3 linked regions of the Homo sapiens genome follow. Changing the gene in region 2 together with the main gene of any one other region gives a genetic interaction. Each region holds a gene or a part of one and is shown on either strand. Other genes may lie near its edges.

Region 1 (7,307 bases), on a different chromosome or scaffold from region 2:
AAGCATCTCCCTCCCAGTTGGCTAGTAGTTTTAGTAAGAGGGTTCCAGTAGTTCCCCAGGGACTCTGGCAGCCAGAGAGAAATATAGGAATGGCTAGATGTAGAGTTCCCTGGAAGCAATGGACCTCAGTGACACCTTCACTCAGTTTGCCTCTTCTGCCTCTCTTGGTTGAGCCATAGTCAGCTTCAGAAACCTCACAGCCGGGCTGGGTGCAGTGGCTCACGCCTGTAATCCCAGCACTTTGGGAGGCCAAGGCGGGCGGATCACGAGGTCAGGAGATTGAGACCAGCCTGACCAATGTGGTGAAACCCAGTCTCTACTAAAAATATCAAATTAGCTGGGCATGGTGACGTGCGCCTGTAATCCCAGCTTCTTGGGAGGCTGAGGAAGGAGAATATCTTAAACCCAGGAGGCAGAGGTTGCAGTGAGCTGAGATTGCGCCACTGCACTCCAGCGTGGGCAACAGAGTGAAACTCCGCCTCAAAAAAAAAAAAAAAAAACTCATGGCCTACCCTGCTCTCATCTCCAGCTACTCAGCATAGAGCGACTAAACCTTTATGCTGCTTCCCTGCGAGTATGCTTCCTACTGTTTGAGAGCATGCGAGAGCACCTCAAGTTCCAAATGGAGGTGAGTTTCTTGATGTGGAAAGAAAAGGGGGAAAAAAAATAGGGAGATATATGGCATCTTCAGTGGGGCCAGCTCTATCATGCTACAGGGGTAGGATTTAGGGACTTCCTATAGGAGAGTCCTTTTAGCCTCCAGAGTTCGGTTCAATCAACTGGCCTCTTTTGTGGAAAAGTTAAAAGGAGACCAAAGGAAACTGGCTGACCCCAAATATGAGAACTGCCAGGTAACCTTACCATGAATAGGGACAGCTCTTCTGCCCAGCAGTTACTCTGCAACACAGGTAGGTAAGTCAAGCCAGCATTGTCACTAAATTGCTAAAAGGAACTCTAAATAGGACCAGGTCATGTTCACATAGCACAAAAGGGCAAGAGGCAACTTGTCTGGGACCAGGTATGTGGTAGAGAGCCAGGCCTTATCCCCCAACATGGAGGCCAAAGAAGAGATATATTTAGGGGATGGAATACCTTTGGGTGTCTCTTAATACATGCCTCTAGGCTGGGCTTCTGCATCCTGTTTAATGTTTTTCCTGTCTAATTTTTTCTCTTCCTATCTTGAATCCTTTCCCCACCCAAATGGCAATTACTGGGTTATTGCCAGATGTACATCAAAAAGCTTATGGAGATCATCACTGTGGAGAACCCCAAGATGCCTTATGAGATGAAGGAGATGGCACTGGAGGCCATTGTGCAGCTCTGGCGCATCCCCAGCTTTGTCACAGAGCTCTACATCAACTATGATTGTGACTACTACTGTTCCAACCTCTTTGAGGAACTCACAAAGCTGCTGTCCAAGGTGCTGAGCACTATAACTGGCTTCTAGGAAAAAACGCATTATAAAGGAAATCTCCCTGGTGGTAGTGAGGATGTTACATACAGAGAGGGGAACACTTGAGAGCTGGGAAATAGAAGAAAGGCATTTTCTTTTCTTTTCTTTTTTTTTTTTTTTTTTTTTTTTGAGATGGAGTCTCACTCTGTTGCCCAGGCTGGAGTGCAGTGGCGCGATCTCGGCTCACTGCAAGCTCCACCTCCCGGGTTCACACCATTCTCCTGCCTCAGCCTCCCGAGTAGCTGGGACTACAGGTGCCCACCACCACGCCCGGCTAATTTTTTGTATTTTTAGCAGAGACGGGGTTTCACCATGTTAGCCAGGATGGTCTCGATCTCCTGACCTTGTGATCCACCCGCCTCGGCCTCCCAAAGTGCTGGGATTACAGGCATGAGCCACCACGCCCGGCCAGAAAGACGTTTTCTAAGGGCAATGTACAAGTTAGAAGAAGTTTTGGAAATTTTAGAAAATGATCAAAGTGTAAAGTGTTCTCCTAACTACAAGTCCAATTGATCTGTTTACTTTCCAGAATGCCTTCCCTGTGTCTGGTCAACTCTATACAACACACCTACTATCTCTTGATGCCCTATTGACAGTGATTGACAGCACCGAGGCCCACTGCCAGGCTAAAGTCCTCAACAGCCTCACCCAGCAAGAGAAGAAGGAGACAGCCAGACCAAGCTGTGAGATAGTAGATGGCACCCGAGAAGCTAGCAATAGTGAGAGGCATTTCTTTCTTTGATGAACCCAGTGTTCTATGCTTATCCCTTCTCTACTCTCTGAGTCGTTTTTCCTGTCCCCATATCACTTCCCCTGGGATGCTCCCAATTCTGTTTCTGGGCTTTGGCAGTTTAAATCACAGGCCAGTCAGGCAGATTAGTAGAACTCATAGCCTTCTCCCTTTTTCCTCCTCCCCACTTTGGTTTTTTACAGAATTATTATTTCTTTATGGCAAGAGAAGAGAACAGAGATTAAAGAATATAGGATTTCTGTCTCTGAAAGCTCCAGGTCCCACCATCCCTCATCCCCAATATCTGCCTCCACTCTAATTAGTCCTCTCTAGCTCCCCCTTGAAATTTGAGGTTGCAGAAGATCAGGGAAAGTGACTGGGTAATCTCTTCATTAAATTAGAGAATCTAATGCTTGGCTGGGACAGGGACTACTTATTTTGGCTTGGGTTTGTCCTGCTCAGGGCTGGCGCCCTGTGCAGGAACCATGCAGGTCTTCTGGGCTTGGGATTTGATCTATCCTGCAGCTCTGCTTGGCTTCATACCCTATAAGTCTTCACGTATCTTCTTCTCTCTTACCAGCTGAGAGAACTGCCAGCGATGGGAAAGCTGTAGGCATGGCCTCAGACATCCCAGGCCTGCATCTGCCAGGTGGAGGGCGGCTGCCACCAGAACATGGGAAATCAGGATGCAGTGATCTGGAGGAAGCTGTTGACTCTGGGGGTGGGTACTGGGTGTCCATGACCCTAAGCTCCTCACCTGGAGGGCCTGGTGAAGAGCAGAGGGAGGGAGCAGACACCTAGGATAGTAACTAAGCAAGCCTTGGTAGCCCGCCTCGCCTTCAGACTCAGAGAGAGGGAAGCAAACATATGGACCCTCAGTTGATAGGACTTCCAGGGAAGTGGAAGACTGGTGAGGACAAGATTTCTGAGGCTCCTTCTTGAAACTGGGGAGTATATTGGTGACCTTCCAAAAGTCCTTATCTGGGTAAAAAAAGGTGTTACAGATATTTCCCCCCTCTTCTTCCTACTCCTAGCTGACAAAAAGTTTGCCCGGAAGCCACCCCGATTTTCCTGTCTCCTGCCAGATCCACGGGAACTAATTGAAATTAAAAACAAAAAGAAGGTACATACATGTATTCCCCAGCCTCTGTCCACCTCTGTCTGGGTGTCCAGTGTTGTAGGGTTTCCATCTCAGAAGATGAAGGAGAGTCTAGCACCTCATTGTACAGCTTCCTGAGGCCAGTCTTTGGGCTTGTTGGGACTTCAGCAACTCCCATTTGAAGCCCTTCCCTTACTCCTAAGCTATGTAGTTGAGCATACCCTATGTATGCCCCTGCGCAAATGCTGTACCAGTTGAGAGCCAAGTGTCACTAGTGGCAGTGACAGGAGCCTTGGGAGTTGGTGTCTTGTGGGTCATTGAAGGTTACTGTCATCTCCAGCTCTTGCAAGATGATTGGCAATAAAGGGAAATTGATATTCATTCTGGTGCTTTAGTAAGGTTCAAATAGTAAGGTTCAAATAACTGTTTGTACTTTGGATTTCTTTTTTTTTTTTTTTTTTTTTTTTTCAGACGGAGTCTCTCTCTGTTGCCTAGGCTGGAGTGCAGTGGCATGATCTCAGCTCACTGCAACCTCCACCTACCGGGTTCAAGCAATTCTTCTGCCTCAGGCTCCCAAGTAGCTGGGACTACAGGCGTGTGCCACCATGCCTGGCTAATTTTTTGTATTTTTAGTAGAGACGGGGTTTCACCGTGTTAGCCAGGGTGGTCTTGATCTCCTGACCTCGTGATCTGCCCACCTTGGCCTCCCAAAGTGCTGGGATTACAGTCGTGAGCCACCATGTCTGGCCTGTACTTTGGGTTTCTTAACACAAAGAAAACCTAACCCTTTCTGGCCGGGCGCAGTGGCTCACGCCTGTAATCCCAGCACTTTGGGAGATCGAGGTGGGCAGATCACCTGAGGTCAGGAGTTTGAGACCAGCCTGGCTAACACGATGAAACCCCGTCTCTACTAAAAATACAAAAATTAGCTGGGCATGGTGGTGCATGCCTGTAATCCCAGCTACTCGGGAGACTGAGGCAGGAGAATCAGTTGAACCTGGGAGGCAGAGGTTGCAGTGAGCTGAGATCACGCCACTGCACTCCAGCCTGGGCAACAGAGTGAAACTCCATCTCGGAAAAAGAAAAAAAAAACCTAACCCTTTCTTTCTCTTATTGCCAGCTTAAATGACTTTGGTTCATGTGTGCCCTTGAGTACCTGGCCGTGACTGGACATACAGAAATATGAGTTGCCTCCACAGTTAGTCCACTTTGTCTTTCAAACCCAGGGCATTAAGCTAGGCAACCAAAGAAGCTAAGCTAGGCTAAAAACAAGAGGCTGGCTATCAACAAATGTCAGGGATGGATATAAAACTGGAGAGAAGAATTACCTAGTTTCTTTCTTCTACTTTTCCCCCAATCCTAAGTTAGAGAAGAGGAACTGTTTTATGTATCTTGAGCACTCAGGAAAGGAGTAAAAAAGAGCTCGTAAGCCAATTCAATTAGACATGAAGATGGGGGAAGCTAAGGCCATTATGATCTAGCCTTAGTTCTGTAATCACTAAGAACCACATCCTAGGAGCTTTTTAGCTGACCAACTGTGGGTGGGCTATGGTGGACTCCAGGCTGGCCTTGTCTAATTTAGAGGCAAAGTAGCTTCTATACCTCTAGTTTTTCTCATGCAGCTGCTAATCACTGGCACAGAGCAGTTCAATCAGAAACCAAAGAAGGGGATTCAGTTTCTGCAAGAGAAAGGCCTCCTCACCATCCCAATGGACAACACAGAGGTTGCTCAGTGGCTCCGAGAGAACCCTCGGCTGGACAAGAAGATGATTGGAGAGTTTGTGAGTGACCGCAAAAACATTGACCTGTTGGAGAGCTTTGTGAGGTGAGGAAGCTGTAAGAAATGTGGGATATAGCCAGGTATGGTGGCTCATGCCTGTAATCCTGACACTTTGGGAGGCTGAGGCAGGCAGATCACTCGAGCTCAGGAGTTCAAGACCAGCCTGGGCAACATGGTGAAACCCTGTCTCTACAAAAAATACAAAAATTAGCTGGGCATGGTGGCATGTGCCTGTAGTCCCAGCTGTTCAGGAGGCTGAGGCAGGAAGATCACTTGAGTCTGGGAGTTCGAGGCTGCAGTGAGCTGTGATCATGCCACTGTGATAGAGTGAGATAGAGTGAGATAGAGTGAGATCATGCCACTGTGATAGAGCTGTGATAGAGTGAGACCTTGGCTCAAAAAAAAAAAAGGTGGGACATGGTTAGTGATCAGTTTAAAGGGACAGAACATCCCTACCTCAAAGCGGTCTCTATAAATTTCTTCTGGAGACCCTAGCCAATGTTCTTCCTCTACCCATCATTTATATCTATTGGACCTGAAAGGGACTCCAACGAGATAGTTTGGGGAGCCCCCTCCATTCTGCATGGAGTCCATTCCAAAGGGGTAGAGCAGGGTTCCAGGGGGTGAGGGTTCTAGGCAAGAGTCCGTGGATGTGAAAAGTATTAAGGCTAGGGGTTGTGTTAGGGATGAACAGGAGATACTGCCCCTTTACTAGAGACCTCAGCCTCCTCTCTTCCAGTAAGAGTAGGTTAGGAGGACAGTGACTAAAAGAGCCTGACATGTGCAGCTTACACATTTTCAGCCTCTTCTTCCTTTCTTTCCCTATAGCACCTTCAGTTTTCAGGGTCTGCGACTGGACGAAGCCCTCCGCCTCTACCTGGAAGCCTTCCGTTTGCCTGGGGAAGCACCAGTCATCCAGAGGTTGCTGGAGGCATTCACAGAGCGTTGGATGGTGAGTTTGAGTGTCAGGGGCTGAGCCCAGGATCCAAGGTCAGTTTGACTGAGGGCTGAAGAATCCAGCTGCTGTCTCTTTTTTTTTTTTTTTTTTTTGAGACAGAGTCTCGCTCTGTCACCCAGGCTGGAGTGCAGTAGCGCAGTCTCAGCACACTGCAACCTCCACCCCCCGGGTTCAAGCAATTCTCCTGCCTTAGCCTCCTGAGTAGCTGGGATTTCAGGCACCTGCCACCAAGCCTGGCTAATTTTTGTATTTTTAGTAGAGATGGGTTTTGCCATGTTGGTCAGGCTGGTCTCGAACTCCTGATCTCGGGTGATCCGCCCACCTCGGCCTCCCTGAGTGCTGGGATTACAAGCGTGAACCACCGCACCCAGCCTGCTGTCTCTTAAAAAGTCAGAGAGCAAAATTAGTGACCTTTCCACAAAGAGATCAGCTTCTGTTAAGGAGTTGGCAAGAGACTGGCCACTTTCTGGATGGTACCTCTCCTCTGTACTAGCACTGACCAGTGGGTTGGTAGTGAGGGTTTAATTGGCCAGAGAAGGGCATTGACACAGGCGGGATCTTTGCTTTTTCAGAATTGTAATGGCTCCCCATTTGCCAATAGCGATGCCTGCTTTTCCCTGGCCTATGCTGTCATCATGCTTAATACTGACCAGCACAACCACAATGTTCGTAAACAGAATGCACCCATGACCCTGGAGGTAAGCTTGGGTCCCAGTCAAGGCAAAGAAGACCCAGCACAGCTTGGGAGGTAGCAGGAAGGACATAGGATTTCCAGTGGGCATGATGGATGGGGTTCTGTCCAAGGGAATCAGGAAGGGCTGGCCAACCTAGAAAAGGGACTGGGGTGGGGAAGTGGGTTTTTTCGCTTACCTTTTCCTAAGTCCTATTTACTGAAAACCCAGGAGTTCCTTAGGTGGGGCTTCAGTGTTGACACAAGGGGAAAAAACTTACTGGCCTGTCTCTAGGAGTTTCGCAAAAATCTGAAAGGTGTGAATGGAGGCAAGGACTTTGAGCAAGACATCCTGGAGGACATGTACCATGCCATCAAGTGAGTATACATAGAGAATAGTGCAGTATCTCTGTTAAGAAGAAGCACATTGCTTCCTTTCCCAGTTTTTAGAGTCATGTCAGACTGCAGTGACTCACATGCCCTGGATTTAGCCTCAGGACTTAGTTGGGCAGCCCCCTCTCTGCCAACTGTTTCTTCCTTAAAGAAGCCCAAATGATATTGGGACTCTAGTACTCTAAGCCAGGGTCCAAAGTGCTGCTCTTAAGTAGGATATCATG
Region 2 (6,906 bases):
CTCTTTAAGTGTGCTCATCGCCAAATCTTTCTTCCCAGTCCTCCTCCTGTACCTCCAACCTAGCCAGCTGTATTTCTGTCTCCTTTGCTGGCTCATCTTCCTCCCTAAAATAAAAGGCATTTCCTGAGGTTTTCTCATGAGCTTTCCCTTTCCCACAGCTTCACCTATTCATATTTATGCTGCCTTCTCACTGGCTCTAGTCACTCATTTCCACCCGCCTACCTCCCTCTGGATGTCCTGCCTGCACCTCCGAGTCACATGTCCAACACCAAACCCCTTACCTTTTCTTCCCTGCTCCCTTAAACCTCTTTTGTCAACTTCTGGCCACGCAGTCTCAATCTCTGGACAAGGGTACCAAGAAAGGAAGAATGCATTCACTTGCCAGGAACCTAGATTTTGCATCAAATATCTCAACTCTGTCCCCTCTGTCCTATACCACTTTACACTAAACCTCTCATCTGAACTGCTATAACACTCTCCTTTTGGTATTCTTAACTCAAGTTTTCAGTACACACTATTGCTAGAGAAACATTCCTTAGGTGTAATTTTGATCAAGCCTGGCACTCAGGATACTCTACCCAACATTTCTCAAACTTTAACGTGCATGTGAATCACACGGTGATCTTGTTAAAATGCAGATACTCTCATTCAGGGAGTGTGGGGTGGTGCCCCACTCCGGAGTTTTAACATACTCCCAAGTGACAATGATGCTATTAGCATCAGACTATATGCATATACAGTCGGCTCTAACCTATTTTTTCTATCCTCATCTACTTCTCCCTGCCTAGCATACATATGTGCATGTCTATATCGCTTACGTACACACACACACACACACACACACACACACACACACACACACAGACATACACAGAGACAAAATGTTTTCCAAACATAATCTCCGGCCTCTGTGCCTCTTGCTGTTTCCTCAAGTCCAGTGACTTTCCATTACAATTTTACCCATTTTTCAGGAACCAACTCATTCTGCCACAACCTTCTCTTATCTTCTTACCTACCCTCACTCCCATACCTCACCTAGTAGAACACCACAAAAACCTTGGGACATCCCTGACACTGGCACTGTTTCTAGTCTGTAATGTTGTTATAGGTCTTCTCGTTTCATCCGTACTGTTAGACTGCACACTCTCCTGGAAGGCAGGAACTACCTGCCTAACCTCTGCCACCCAGGGCATCCTTGGGCTCTTGTTAACCAGTAAGTACCTGTTGAAGTGGATTTGAATTCTAAGAAAAAGAAAACGTCTCAACTCTACTTCATGTAATTCATTTTGAGCAGGAGCTTCAGAAATTTATGATAAACAAAAACACTCTTCCAGGAAAACTGACTCATTAGCAAACCTAAGAAAACTTTGTTTTATATATATATATTTACAAATGTTTATATATTCAAATGGTGCCTAGAGAATTTTAGTACTTATCCTATTTATAGTAGTCTCCAGATATATAGATCAAAGTTCTAATATTAATTTAAAATTAAATCTAACTTGTTACGATCTAGTAATGACTATAAGTCTAAAATATGTTCCAATCCAGAGCCCAGCCTTCCCTAGTTTAATTTACTTAATGCTCCCTTTAGCACTCCATTTATAAAATGGGACATCACTTTCTCCACGGGTGTGATAAGATTGGCTGTCCCCCAAATTTACTGTTAACATGCCTTACATTGTGTCTAGACTTTGAAAAGTGCTTTAAAACAATCACCTTGAAGTAACATTTTTTGAATGCTGAGAAACTCAAAGAAAACCCTATATTAAATGTTTATACAGTAAACCCCTTATTCAAGAACCTAACCATGGCTCTTAGGTTCAAGAACCAATATTCAAGAATCTGACTATAGCTCTTAAACTTTAGCGTGCAAGAATTATCCGGCGTGCTTGTTAAACACGCAGATGCCAGGCTCTTACCCAGGGAATGTCTCATTCAGTAAAACTGGGGTAGGGCCTAGAAAACTGTAGATTTCACCAGCAACCCCAGGTGATTCGGATGCAGGTGTTCCGCAGATCTCAATTAGACACTGATCTCAATCCTTGTCCGGGGGCACTACAGAGTTGTGTTTGAAAGAAAATGCAGACGTCTTTTGCTAAAGTCCTTTCTCAAAACAGCTGTCACGCCAGCACAGACAGGAGGTGATGTGCGTAAGGAAAAAGAGGGAAAGGTTCCTTGGAAGAGAATCAATGCCCGAAAACAATGAAAGAGGGGAAGTGGCGTTTCTTTGCAACCCTGGAATTCCATTCTCCCGCACCTGCGAGGATGCTGCTCTGACCCGTCGGCCAGCACCAGGCCCTCGGGAGCCGAGCCCAGGCAGGTCGCTGGCCGGGGGATGGGAGGGCGTCGTGGCCCCGCGCTCGTCCCCAGGTCGCCAGCTGCCCTCCGCAGCCGAGGGAAGACGCCCGCCCGGGTCCCGGATCTCCGCCCCCCTACACCGCATCCTCCGCGGCTCGCGCGCGTAAACAAGTTGCCTCCCCCGGGTCGGCAGCCCCTCACCTGCCGCGCGGTCGCAACTCTGTCTCATCGTCTGGTTCCGGACCCCGAGGCTCCTGCTCTCCCGCGGCTGCCGGCAGCGCCTCAGCGTCCTCCACAGTCACCTCGGCCGCAGCCACGGCGCCCGCCGCCGGTACTCGCGTCGCTGAGGTGGGAGCAGCGGCCGCCCCGAGGCCGAACGCCGCCTCCGCCGTCGGCGCTGGGAGGCCACGGGCGCGCCCCGCGGCCACCGTCCTTGCCGCGAGCCCCAGCAGCAGCAGCAGCAGCAGCAGCGCCCGTACCAGCAGCCCCGGGCTGATGGCGCGCTCCATCAGCGTCCCGCCCCGCGCGCAGGCATGGAGGCGCAGCCACTGACGCCTGCCTCTCCCGCCGCTTGGAGCTCCCAAGAAGGCAAGGACGTGCTAGGGACCCTACTGCCGCCCCGACGGCCTGGACAGCCAGCCGTGTTCCCCTGGCCACGTCTCAGCCCGGCCTCTGCCGCTGCCACCTGAGTGACAGCCTATCTCGGACATCGCCCATTGAGCAAACTTTCCGCGCGTTTGCTCTCTCATTGGCTGCGGCCGCTGCCACTCCATGTTCCCAGGCTGGCCTTGTTGGGGAAGGTGGACTTTCCCTGGTGGTCAACATCGCACCTACCAATCAAATCGTAATTTCGTCGTTCGAGGCCCGTCCCTCTTCCGGACGCAATTACCAATGAGAAATGCCCTTCCCCGACGTCTTTTTACCTGATTGGTGCGCTCATCAGTTCCCGGAATACCTTTCCTACAACAGATTGGCCATCGCGGTGGTTGGCCTCGCCCCACAAAGCGAGGCGCTGGAGAAGACTTGAAGATCATTGGTGGAAGTGGATGTCCCTCAAAGGTCTGCGCTAACTGCCTCTTGATTGGTTGGAAGCGGCACTTACTACGTGGCGGATTCTGACTGTGAAGAGGACTGTCCCAAGTGAAGAGTGGGAGGCAAGTGCCTTGTGACCGGGAGGAGGTCGACCTTAAAGGAGCTGGTATTGTAGCTCTTCTAAAGCCTAGTCTACTTAGGAAGGCAAAAGCGAAGCAGCAAGAAGTGGCCACAGAAGCCGTGTGGTCCCTAGAAGTAGAAGGGTAAGGAGGATGCAGGAGATGGTCCTACTTGTGGCCGCAACGGGGCTCAGAAGTCCGCTTGTTAGAGATGGCAGTGACCTGTGACAATCCAGTCTGCCCGACACGCCTCCCGCCTCCTTAGGAACGGGAAGGAGCCCCGGCCCAGTGCACTGACGTAGTTAGCCTAAGATCACGTAGCTGGTTGGTCACAGAATCATGACTTTAATTCATGTCTTCTGACTCTGACCTGGCACGCTTTGTACCTCACCAAAGACAGTGATGAAATTGCAAAAGGGCAGAGTGGAGAAGACTGGAATGTTCAGCCAAGGCATTTGAACTTTTAATGCTGCAAGTCAAGACTTCCTGAAGATTTTTGAGCAGATGAGTGAAGTGATAAGAAAATGCATCTTCAGCAGTGACAGCATCAACGAGGAGGAGACTGGCCGGGAGGCTATTACCCGCATCAAAACCAGTGAACATTAAAAAAAATTTTTTTTTTAGAGAGAGGGTCTTGCTCTTTTGCCCAGGCTGGAGTGCAGTGGCTTGACCATAGTTCTCTATAACCTTGAATTCCTGCGTTCAAGCGATCTTCCTTCCTCAGCTTCCGGAGTAGCTGGGACTACAGATGCGTGCCACCATGCCAGGCCAATTTTTAATTTTGTTTTGTAAAGATGGGGTTTCTGTGTTGCCCAGGTTGGTCTCAAATTCCTGGCCTCAAGCCATCCTCCCGCCTCAGCCTCCCAAAGTGCTGCAATTTACGGGCATTAGCCACCGCACCTGGTCCAAAACCGGTGAAGATTTGTTAAGGTGTTGGCAATATGGGTATACCTAGATTATCCTTCATCTGCTAAAAACATGCTCTAATCTCTCCCCAGCCCAAAACAAACAAGAAACCTCTCTTCCCCTTCCAGCTCCTACCACGTGTCTTTGCTCCTCTGTATGGCAAAACTCAAGTGTTCAAAATTCCTTATCTTCAATTCCTCTTCTCCCATTCCCAAGTACACTACAGTCAGGCATTCACACCACCAAAACTGCTCTCGCTGAGGCCACCAGTGCTGTATTCAAAGGATAATCTTTGTTTTATCAGCTGTATTTGATCCAGCAACTCAAGTTTTTCCTGTCTAGAACACCTTTCACCGGTCTTCTTGCTTCTCCATAGTGCTGGTCGTAACCCTCAAAAGGTCCCCCAGTTCACTCAGGATAAAAGTCAAGTCCTTAAAATAGACTACAGGGTGCTACAGCATCTGGTTCCTATGGCTTTTCTGATCTCATTTCATACTGTCTTTGCTCACTCCACTGGGCCAATCAAGACCCACCTGGGGGGTTTTCCTTTGTTGTTTTGCCTGCCTAGGAAACTTCCCAGGTATATGAGTTTGCTAGAGTTGCCCTAACAAATACCACAGACCAGGTGGCCTGAACAAAACTAGTTTATTTTCTCGAAGTTCTGGAGGCTAGAAGTCCAAGATCAAGGTGGGATTCTGAGGCCTCTCTCCTTGGCTTGCCGATGACAGCCCTCTTACTTCCTCTTCCCTCTGATGTCTCTTCCTATTCTTCTAACACCAGTCAGATTGGAGTGTGGGGCTACCTTTAACAGCCTCATTTTAACTTAATCACTGCTTTAAAGATCTTATCTCCAAATACAGTATAGTTATATTCTGAAGCACTAAAGGTTGGGACTTCAACATGTAAATTTTGGAGGGACACAATTTAGCACATAATACCCAGGTACCCACAAGATATGTTCCCTCACTTTATTTGAGGCTTTGCTAATCCCAGTGAAGTCCCTCCTCACTACCTTATTTAAAATTAAAACCTCCACCACCTTCCTTCCTTTATTTCTCTCCTGCTTTATTTCTGCTTAGCCGATACATACATTACAAATATGTAAATACTGTAATTTACATATTTGTTTTGTTTATTGTCTGCTGTGTTTCCTTCCACTTGCATGTAAATTCTGTGAAGATTTGCTCATTGATGTATTCGAAGACATAAAACAGTGCAAAGTGTTTAGCAAGCATTTAATAAATGTTTGTTGAATGAATGAATGAATGAATGAATACCTGAGGACAGAAGGAAAGAGACAACTGGAAAGGAAGAGACTGCAGTTGCTGTAGACAGAGGGGGTTGATTACGAGAGCAAGATTCCAGAGTATCTGGAGGAAAAGGGGCAGCTCTGCCTTCCATGTTGAAAGTAGAGCGTAGGAGGTATTCCTAGAGAGTAAGTTATTTTGAAAAGTAGAGAAAATAGATGAGCGAACTCAAACCAATTGACCATTATCTACTCAACAAAATAGGAGATAAAATTGCCCACCTAAAAGGGATTATACTAGTTGGTATGAGGAAGGTGTCAGAAAATTAACATAAGATGAAAAATGATTGTTAACTACCTGTTTGAAATTAGTGTATATATTTTAGTGGGCCTGGTCTTCATGGTTTTGTAATTTTTTCAAAAAATGATCATGGCATGAACAAGGCTATTAATCTGAACTAATGAATTAGGAGTCTACTTGCCACCTGTAAATACTGTGGAAGTTTTATTTATTCATTTAACATTCAGGGATTCCACATGACCACCTGCAAATAATGAGAATAAAGATATGAACAAAATAGATGTGGTTCCCGCCCTTCTGAAGGTTAACACCTATCTAGTTAGGGAGACAGACATTAACAATCACACATATATTATTAAAACTGAGATAAGTGCTATGATGAAAAAGGCGCGGGCAGAAGAGCACAGTGGTGGAAAATGCCAGTAAGGAGAGTCAAGCTTTATACTTGGGAACAAAACACAAATTTTCCATTTTGGAAAAAAAGCCTGAGTCGAAGTGTGCTGACTGGGAAAATAAATTAAGGAGAGAAAAGAGAGTCTACCTGCTTTAGGACAGCATGGAGCTTCACAGTGACTTTGTGGGAACTCTGGAACCTGGGTGCCTCAGGGAAATGTAAGAAAGTGGGGACCGGGCATGAGAGCTGGCCCGTGAGGCTGGGCCAGGAAAAGAAGCTGGTGCTCAGGTACCCTGAGCCAGGGTTGCCCAAAACAACCAAGATTCTACAACTGAGTGTGGCCCAAAAAATCAGCAAAATAGGTCTGAGATTTAGAAACAGTGAGTTCAATCCCTTAACAGAGAGAGACTGCATCTGTTGAAATGATATTTGATTGTGAATAACAAAAACGTTGCCATATAGTGGGTGAAGCAAGAAGTGGGTTTTTTTTTTTTACTGACACCACAGCTCTACAGTGATGTTTTATTTAAACTTATGCTCCTTCTGTTTCTCCATGCTTCATGGGTGACTTTGTTCCTTTTGCCTGTCGTCTCACTGTTTTGGGATG
Region 3 (8,280 bases), on a different chromosome or scaffold from region 2:
ACTTATCATGGTTCAAATAAAACTTATCACAATATTTTATACGTATAGATTTTCAACTATATATTTTCAACTATTCTTTTCCCCATGGCCAAAATATATGGTTTAATCAGCTCAATGAAATAAAGAAAAATTGGGTCCAGATAGCATGTTAAGGAAGAAAAAGAGATAAAACTATGATAAGAGAAAAAAGGTTTCGTTCCCAGGCTGTGTTGCTACTCAAGTCACCAAGAGGACAAACCATTAGCAAAGAAATGAAATAACTTCCTTATCTGTAACATGAGAATACTAAAGCAGATACTACTAAAGTTTTCTTTCTATTCCAAAAATTCGATCTCATCTAGTGCTTTAGACTTCACTCTTTCAAACGCCTTTGAGAAGGGAGGGTGCCAAAAGACTCAAACTTTCAATTCATGATATATACTTTCTGTCTCTGGATGACAATTAACAGAAAAATCTAGAAGAAAACAAAGGCAAATATTTCAAAATCAGAAAAACACTAGGTTATCTCTTCCCCATCCTGTGCCACTCTTAGTTCCACATTCACTTCTCTCATAACCATTCTCCTTCATTTCTTTTTTTAAAAGTGAATTGTATTGTATATATTTGATGTTTACAACATAGTATTATGAGATATACACACATAAAATGGTTACAATAGTGAAGCAGATTAATAAGAGTGAAGCAGATTAATATATCTATCATCTCACATAATTACTTTTTGTGTGACAAGAGCAGCTAAAACCTACCTATTTAACAAAAATCCTTAATACAACACAATTTTATTAAGCCTCAGGCCTAGCAGTAGCACCATTTGCCTTTCAGAGAACTATGAGATTAGTGAATCCAGACACAATTTATTTGGGAAAACAGGGGCTAACGGTTTGCTAATTCAAGTCAGAGTTCTTACCTTTATATCCCTATCACCAAATCCAGTGTCAAATACATAGCAGACACCTAATTTAACTCCTCTATATAATTTATTACACCAGTGGTTCTCAAGTGTGGTCATCCAGGGTCTTTCTAGAAACGCAAAATTTCAGGTCCCATCAAGACCTAATGAATCAAACTCTGTAAGTGGGGTACAGCACTCTGTTTTAAAAAGCCCTCCATGTGCGATTCTGATGCACACTCAAGTTTGAGAACCACTGTATTAAACCTCCCAGGAAATAACCTTCTTGTTAATTACAAAAAAAAAAAAAAAAAAAAAGTGCTGATTTTTTTTCTCAGCTGCCATCACTTAAAAGTGCTTGGACTCACATGATGTTGTCAACTACTTAACTTCTGTCTCCAGCGTGCACACAAAATGAACTTTAGTAAAACCTTTGGAGCCTCAGTTCCCTGGTCTGTAAAGTAGGAATGAATACCACACGCTTTCGTGAATAAGATATGGCTTACAGAAAGGCTCCTTTCTTTCCTTTTTCTGTTACCTGTACTAAGTCCCTGCTATTTTACACAGACAATGGTCCTAAAGAAGACACTCTGGCACTCCTCTGAGAAATGTCACCAGTGCCTCCTACACAGAAAAGCTCTCAAATGTGGTTTTCTTATGGAAAATACCACAGGAGGGAAATGAAGAGTTAAGAGTCCTTACAGACTCATATACAGAACAGCAATTCTAAAAAGTAGTGGGAAAAGCAATCATTCAAAATTGTGCATCTCTGTAACTTAAAAAAAAAAATCACCATTAAACAGAACATAGGCAACTTTCTCTTAAGTGTCCAAAATAAATTATTAATGATAACTGGAGATAAATACTACAGATGAGGGATGGTGGGGTGCGGGGGCAGGAGGAATGAAGCTTTTGAAAATGCAAAAGAACTAGAATATATGACCCATATTAAAGTGGTACAGACCTTCAAATTCCAATCCCCTAGATTTTTCTGGGGGCAGCCTCACTGTCAAATTCTTTGTCCCAATGTTGCCACACTACGTGTTCTGATTTGGGGTTCAAAAAATATGGTTACCAGGGGAAGCAAAAGCAAAAGCCCATTGCTATGGGTGACACCTAAAAACTGGGGAGTACTACTTTAAAAAAAAAAGTTGAGAACTTTCAGAAGAATTCACTATAAACAATTCCCAATTTTTAGTTCCTCGCTCCCTTTGAATGGAATACTCAAAGGTTTAATTTGACCTCCTTGACAACTAGCCCTTTTTATGGGGATGAAAATAGATCAGTGCATGTGATGTGTCATTACACTCGAATATTTCGCACAGTAACCGCGCCAGAAGCATTCGTTAAATCGGCACTATCAACTTTAATTCTTACTCCTCCCCGCTGCCATCTAAGATAGGACAGCCCTCTATTTTCGCTATTCTGGAGTAGCCAACATTCCAGTCTGCAGGACTGAAGTGAAATTTAATCGTTCGTATCTTTTTAAGGGAACCTTTTTACAGCGAACTTGGAAAAGTAATGCCAGCCATACGTTGAATGACACCATGTTGGGAGTTGTAAAACCACAAACTCAGTGCCTGGCCGTCCGGGAGATGGAATTCCAACAGCGGCTCCTCATTGCACCAAACTAACAATTTCTCTACACGACAGTGCATCTTAATGGGGATGGTTACACACTTTTTAAATAGTCAACACTGTCCCCTCCAACTCCCAGCCGGACATGACACTCCTTCCCCACCCAAGAACTCCAGAGCGAAGGAAGTCTTTTGGCCACCTTAGTGCCTCCTCCCAGCCAGCACCAATGACTGACAGTGTCCCCAGGCGCCCAGCGAGGGTCCCAAGCGAGGCCAGGACCCAAAGGCTGCCCAAGTCTCCGCGTCCCAGGACTTCCTGAAGTCGTAGCCCGGTGCCCCCGCACCCCGCCTCCTCCGACTCCTGCGGCCCGGTTCCTTAGTCCAAACCCGCTGTCCCGGCCCCGCGGCCCGCCAGTCCCCTCGATTCTTCCCCAGACAAACCCGGAACCGGGCGCGGGCTCAGGCCCAAGCCAGGCCGCGGGCTCCCCCAGCGCTCGCCCCACCTCCCGAGCCGCTCCGGGACAGGCGCCCGGGCGCAGACGGGAAAGCGCGGGGGGCCTGGTCCGGGAGCCCACTTCCTGGCCGGGGCAGGGCAGGACTCACCTTCGTACTGCAGATCCACCAGGACTAGCAGGAAGGGGAATACCGAGCCCAGCCGGCTGGTCACGGAGCCGGGGGCCACCATGTCCGAGGGCTCGCGAGTGAAGAGGAGGAAAGGTGTGTGGCCCACCAGCACGCGCCGGCGCTCCGGCAGCAGCTGCGCCCGCCCGCCGTCGGCTCTCGCTCAGGCCTCAGTGGCTCTGGAGCCCAGCAGAGGAAGGCAGCGGTGGGCGGGGCCCGGGCGACGCTACGCCCCAGAGCGCCGCCGCCATCCAATCGCCTTCTTTCTGGCGGCTTTCCTCCCGGGCTCGCCGGGGTCGTGGTTCGCGCTGATAGGCTGCGGAGGCCGCCGCCCCGCCCCGTCCCTGATAGGATAACGTGGAAGCACGAGACGAGGCTGCGCCCGCCGGTCGCAGAGCTGTCAGCAAGCTCCAAACCGCGGCTGCCGCCCGGAGGGAAGCAGACGGGGAGTCGGTGGCGGCCGCCGAGTCCGCATGCGCAGGCTGCAAAGGCCCTTTTGGGCCGGTCCCGCCGCGCTAGGTTGGCGAGTGGGACTATTTGATCCTTTCCAGGTTCGCCAGCGTGGTGTTACGAGAGGAAAGCGCAGCCGCAGCGTACGAATGGGAAGGCCAAACACGGTCCCGGGGAGTCTGAGGGAAGCTGCAGGGCGCCTGGAATTGGGGTCTCGAGTGAGCCGGTAAAAACCGCCTCCCGCTGAGCGTCCCGGAACAAATACTGTCTGAACTGAGCCGTAAGCAAGAAACGGTCAGGAGAAGCTGGGGCGATCTGATGATTAGAACATTTCAGGGACTACCAGAGAGAAGTGCGTAATTGCTCTAAGGCAGGTAGGTAATTGGCCTGGAAACTTGGGAACGCCCCGCCCCCCACCCCGACTTTCAGCAAACCACCGTGCCCAGGAAAAAGAGCGATTGTGGAAGACCCTGTGAAGAAGAGACCAGGAAGGCACTGTGGCTTAAGAGAGCAAGGCGTTCCTGAATGCAGCCAACATCAACTGGTAAACAAAAAACTGTGAGAACGGATCCTGAATCTTGCGCTTACCAGGGGAAATTCAGGAGAGATATGAACCTGAGCAAGATGAGGTTGAAGTTACTCAATGCGGCATTAAGCCTGTTCACGGCCACTTCCTCCGGCGTCACCAACACACACACTGTACACCAGCAGTATTTTTACACGGGGTATGTGTGTTAAGTACTATCAGGTGGATAATTATTACTTCACCTGTATTTGCTGCCTTGATACCATTAGAGAAACTCATGAATTATAAATAGCATAGTGAATTTGTGATTCCCTGAAGATATACTAAGGTGGACTTTTAAAAAGGCTTCTATTCCAAAGGGAACTAATATGGAGGAAATGGTTTCGAGAAAGAAAAAAGAAAAAACGGAGTCCTTGATTAGTTGTGGGGAAGGCAACATAATGTAATGTGAAGAATAAAGGAGTCAGATCCAGGAAACCCCATAACTATTATGTAAGTTATCTTCATCTGTAAAGTGGTTAGGATCCTGATAGTCTCAAAGGTTTGTTTTGAGGTTTCATGAAGCAGATAAATATTCTTGTAAATTGTAGAATGTTATACCAGTGTTACTCATTATTCTAACAAGAGCAGAGTAGTGAAGAGAGGCTCCTTCAGAAATTCCTTGGGATTTTTTTTTTTTTGGCTTCTGTTTTTTTATATCACAAGGTAGTGTCTCTGAAAAATGGTAGATGATTTCAATGTCCACAAATATGCAGGTGTAGACATTCAATTGAGGTACTGTACCCAAGGCAGCCAGCAAAATGCTGAACATAGAAAATAACTTTGTAAACAAAATGCAATATTTCTAGACAGTGAGTTATCACCAGTGTGCTGCCTATGACCCTGGCCTTAAGGAAAAAGTAGCAGAGCTGAAGAAGTTCTAAGGATGGAAATTAAAAATTATTAAGGAGATAATAGACTTCGTGTTATAGGAAATAAAAATAGCAAGGGTCTTCAATGGTGAGTGATTTTGAGATTAATTACATAACTATGAATTCTGTAATATTAGAACTAAGCTTTACAAAGCATTCCTTAAAAAAAGATAATTTTACAACAAAGGTAACATTAGACAGAAAAAAATGTACAAAACTAAAATTAAGTGATTAATGCTTGGGAATGTTTCCTCCAATGTTCATCTAGTCATGGTTTTCACGAATCACTCTTGCCAATAAAACCGAAAATCAAAGTAATCTAGTGAGTGTAAGAAAAGTTACTGTAAATATGTTTGCATTCGTCAGACTCTATGGAGTCTTTTTGAAGTTAAACATTAAATCTCCACTGTAATTCATACTGTTAATTATAGTAGCAAAAGACTTAAAAAACAATGGTAGCATATTTATGATATATCCAAAATTAAGAGTATTATGCAATTTTTATTAGGTTGATCTATGTTTATTGACTAGGAAAAACAATGTTGGTAGAGAGGAGTGAACAGATCTAGAACATATTTTGTAGGTAAAGGGAATAAGATTTGTTTAGGAATTAACTATGAGGAGAAATAAATGTTCAGAAACAAGTAGAGCACTTATAAACACCTTTTTGTGCCAAATTAAGAACAAAAAAGTCAGCATTAAGTTAATGCCACCATATACATCCTTCCACATTTATGTTTACAAACTTGTGCTTTTATTTCTAGGAAACATTTCTAGGCTGGGCGCAGTGGCTCACACCTGTAATGCTAGCGCTTTGGGAAGCCAAGATGGGAGGATTATTTGAGGCCGGGAGTTTGCGACCAGCCTGAGCAACATAGCAGGATCCTGTCTCTGCAAAAAAATTTAAAACTAGCCAGGTGCGGTGGCTCGTGCCTGTTGCCCTAGCTACTCAGGGAGACTGAGGCAGAGGATTGCTTCAACCCAGGAGTTTGAGGTTGCAGTGAGCTAAGATCATGTCACTGCACTCCAGACTGAGCAACAGAGTGACACTTTATAAAAAAAAAAAAAAAAAAAACTAGGTTTTTGAACTTGCTTAATCAAAGAATTTGTTTAAACTTTTAAGATGCGTTGTCAGATTATCTTTCCCTAAAGGAATAATTTCTATTCCTATCAGCTGTTTATATTCCTGCCTAGTCACCATCACTAGATATAATTGATTTTCAGTTTTTGCCAATCTGAGGAACAAAAAATGACCCTTATATGTCAAATTTACAGTTTATTTTCAAGGATTTTGGGATTCTGATCAAATTTTGGTACCTTCATATAAAATTTGGCTTTTATATCACATCTTGTCTTCTCTGCTTTCCACCCTCTTTTATGTTGTTTTTTGGCTTCTGGCCGCATGACTATAATCTCCGCTTTTGTATTCACATCACCTTCTGTCATTTTTGACCTTGCCTCCGTCTTACAAGGATCCTTGTAATTAATTATATTGGGCCTGCTGAGATAATCCAGGATATTCTTCCTACTCAAGTTCCTCAATTTAATCACATCTGCAAAAACTGCCTTTTGCTATAGAACAATGACAGGAGATTAGAATGTAAACATATTTGGGGGACCGTTATTCAGCTTAACACAATACGTCCCCCTTCATCAGGTGGAGCTTATTTTCCCTCCTTCCTTGAGTGTGGGCTGGACTTAGTGACTAACTTCCAAAGAACAGAGTATGGAAAGGGAGGAGGAGAGTAACTTCATAGTACAGAAACCTGGAAACACTGTCTTGGCCAGGTGGTCAAAGTTAATATCATCAAGTCATGTTGATAGCATATACTCCCAATATACTGTGATGAGAAGGGCAATTCACCTCTGTGGTATTCTCAAAACCTATAACCCAATCTAGTCTAAACATGAAAAAAAAAAAATCAAACTAAAATTGAAGGACATTCTATAAAACACCTGATCAGTATTCCTCAAAACTATCAACGTCGTGGGGAACAAGGAAAGATTGAAATACTGTAACAGACCAGAGGAAACTAAGGAAACTTAATTGATGACTGAATGCAGTGTGCTGTGTTGAACTGGATCCTAGAGAAAATAGACATTAGTGGAAAAACTACTGAAATATGAATAGTCTCAAGTTTAATAGTAGTGTACCATTATTACTTTCTTAGTTTTGACAAATGTACCATGGTTATGCAAGATGCTAACAATACAGAAAAATAAGGGGTATTTGGGACCTCCCTGTATTATCCTTATGCCCTTACTTGAAAGTTGTTTCAGCAATAGAAGTTTATTTAAAATATTGTGAAGGGCCTGAGTATTTTTAAATCAACTGCAGTGACTCTCTTTTGTGTATTTGTGTACAGATGAGTTTTTCTGCATCGAATTTTATCTCCTTTCCTTGCAGAAGAAAGAGAATTAGCCCTTTACAGAGATAACAGTTGCCTAAGCCAGCTCTTTTCTCCTCTTTTTGATGTTCTTCTTTTTCTCTCAGTTTGAAAATTGTAGGTTATTTGAGTTTTTAAAATGTCTATTGCTACATACACATTCTAGTTATATTCTAGTCCAAACAATCTAGTAAAATATCTAAAAGAAAAATGCTGTTCACTGTATTTTTTATTTTTAAAATGTGAGTGAGTGCATTTAAATAATAGGTTGTGTTATTATAATTATGAGCTAAAAGTTTTGAAGTGTGATTTAAAGAGTCTTTAACATTACAATTCTGGACTACAAAGTGTAAAAATTGTATTTTAAAAGATTCATGTACTGTTTCCGATAAATAGATGAATCTTTGATCACTGGAATGTGTTAATACTAATTTAAAGGCAGCTATATATCTTCTGATTTTATAAGAAATTAACTAAGTACAATATTATATTTTATATACAATGGGTAAACTCTTCAAAATTTAAGCTTTCTAATTTCTAAATTAAGTGACATAATGACATGTCTTTAAATAGGTTTGATCTTATAAAATTTTTGTAATAACACAAATATAAGAACTTATTATTTTCCAGATTCTCACATCTAAATCCAAACATATAAACACAATTGCATTAAATATAAATGTTATAAACACAATAATTAAACGACATAATCAAAATGGATTTTGAAAATAACATGAGGAAGACAGAGCAAGATAGCCAAATAGAAGCCTCCACCGATCATCATCCCCACAGGAACACCAACTTTGACAACTATTTACACAAAAAAAGCACCTTCATAAGAACCAAAAATCAGGCGAACAATCACAGTACCTGGTTTTAACTGCATATTGCTGACAGAGGCGTTGAAGAGAGTAGGAAA

Evidence for each region.
Region 1: changes in EIF2AK3 (region 2) and GBF1 together harm fitness less than expected from each alone (positive genetic interaction), as found in Homo sapiens cells (one study listed by BioGRID).
Region 3: of EIF2AK3 (region 2) and DNAJC3, changing one suppresses a phenotype caused by changing the other (phenotypic suppression), as found in Homo sapiens cells (one study listed by BioGRID).

What each region holds. Positions count from the first base shown.
Region 1 is NC_000010.11:102,360,493-102,367,799, forward strand, and holds part of GBF1 (Golgi-specific brefeldin A-resistance guanine nucleotide exchange factor 1), read left to right. Parts: intron 1-529; coding exon 530-628; intron 629-1,225; coding exon 1,226-1,420; intron 1,421-1,982; coding exon 1,983-2,172; intron 2,173-2,763; coding exon 2,764-2,904; intron 2,905-3,217; coding exon 3,218-3,306; intron 3,307-4,904; coding exon 4,905-5,107; intron 5,108-5,890; coding exon 5,891-6,014; intron 6,015-6,592; coding exon 6,593-6,718; intron 6,719-6,985; coding exon 6,986-7,068; intron 7,069-7,307. UniProt on the Homo sapiens protein: Guanine-nucleotide exchange factor (GEF) for members of the Arf family of small GTPases involved in trafficking in the early secretory pathway; its GEF activity initiates the coating of nascent vesicles via the localized generation of activated ARFs through replacement of GDP with GTP.
Region 2 is NC_000002.12:88,624,465-88,631,370, forward strand, and holds the start of EIF2AK3 (eukaryotic translation initiation factor 2-alpha kinase 3 isoform 1 precursor), read right to left. Parts: upstream 3,001-6,906; 5' UTR 2,811-3,000; coding exon 2,503-2,810; intron 466-2,502; exon of another isoform or gene 282-465; intron 1-281. UniProt on the Homo sapiens protein: Metabolic-stress sensing protein kinase that phosphorylates the alpha subunit of eukaryotic translation initiation factor 2 (EIF2S1/eIF-2-alpha) in response to various stress, such as unfolded protein response (UPR).
Region 3 is NC_000013.11:95,672,127-95,680,406, reverse strand, and holds the start of DNAJC3 (dnaJ homolog subfamily C member 3 precursor), read right to left. Parts: upstream 3,269-8,280; 5' UTR 3,152-3,268; coding exon 3,070-3,151; intron 1-3,069. UniProt on the Homo sapiens protein: Involved in the unfolded protein response (UPR) during endoplasmic reticulum (ER) stress.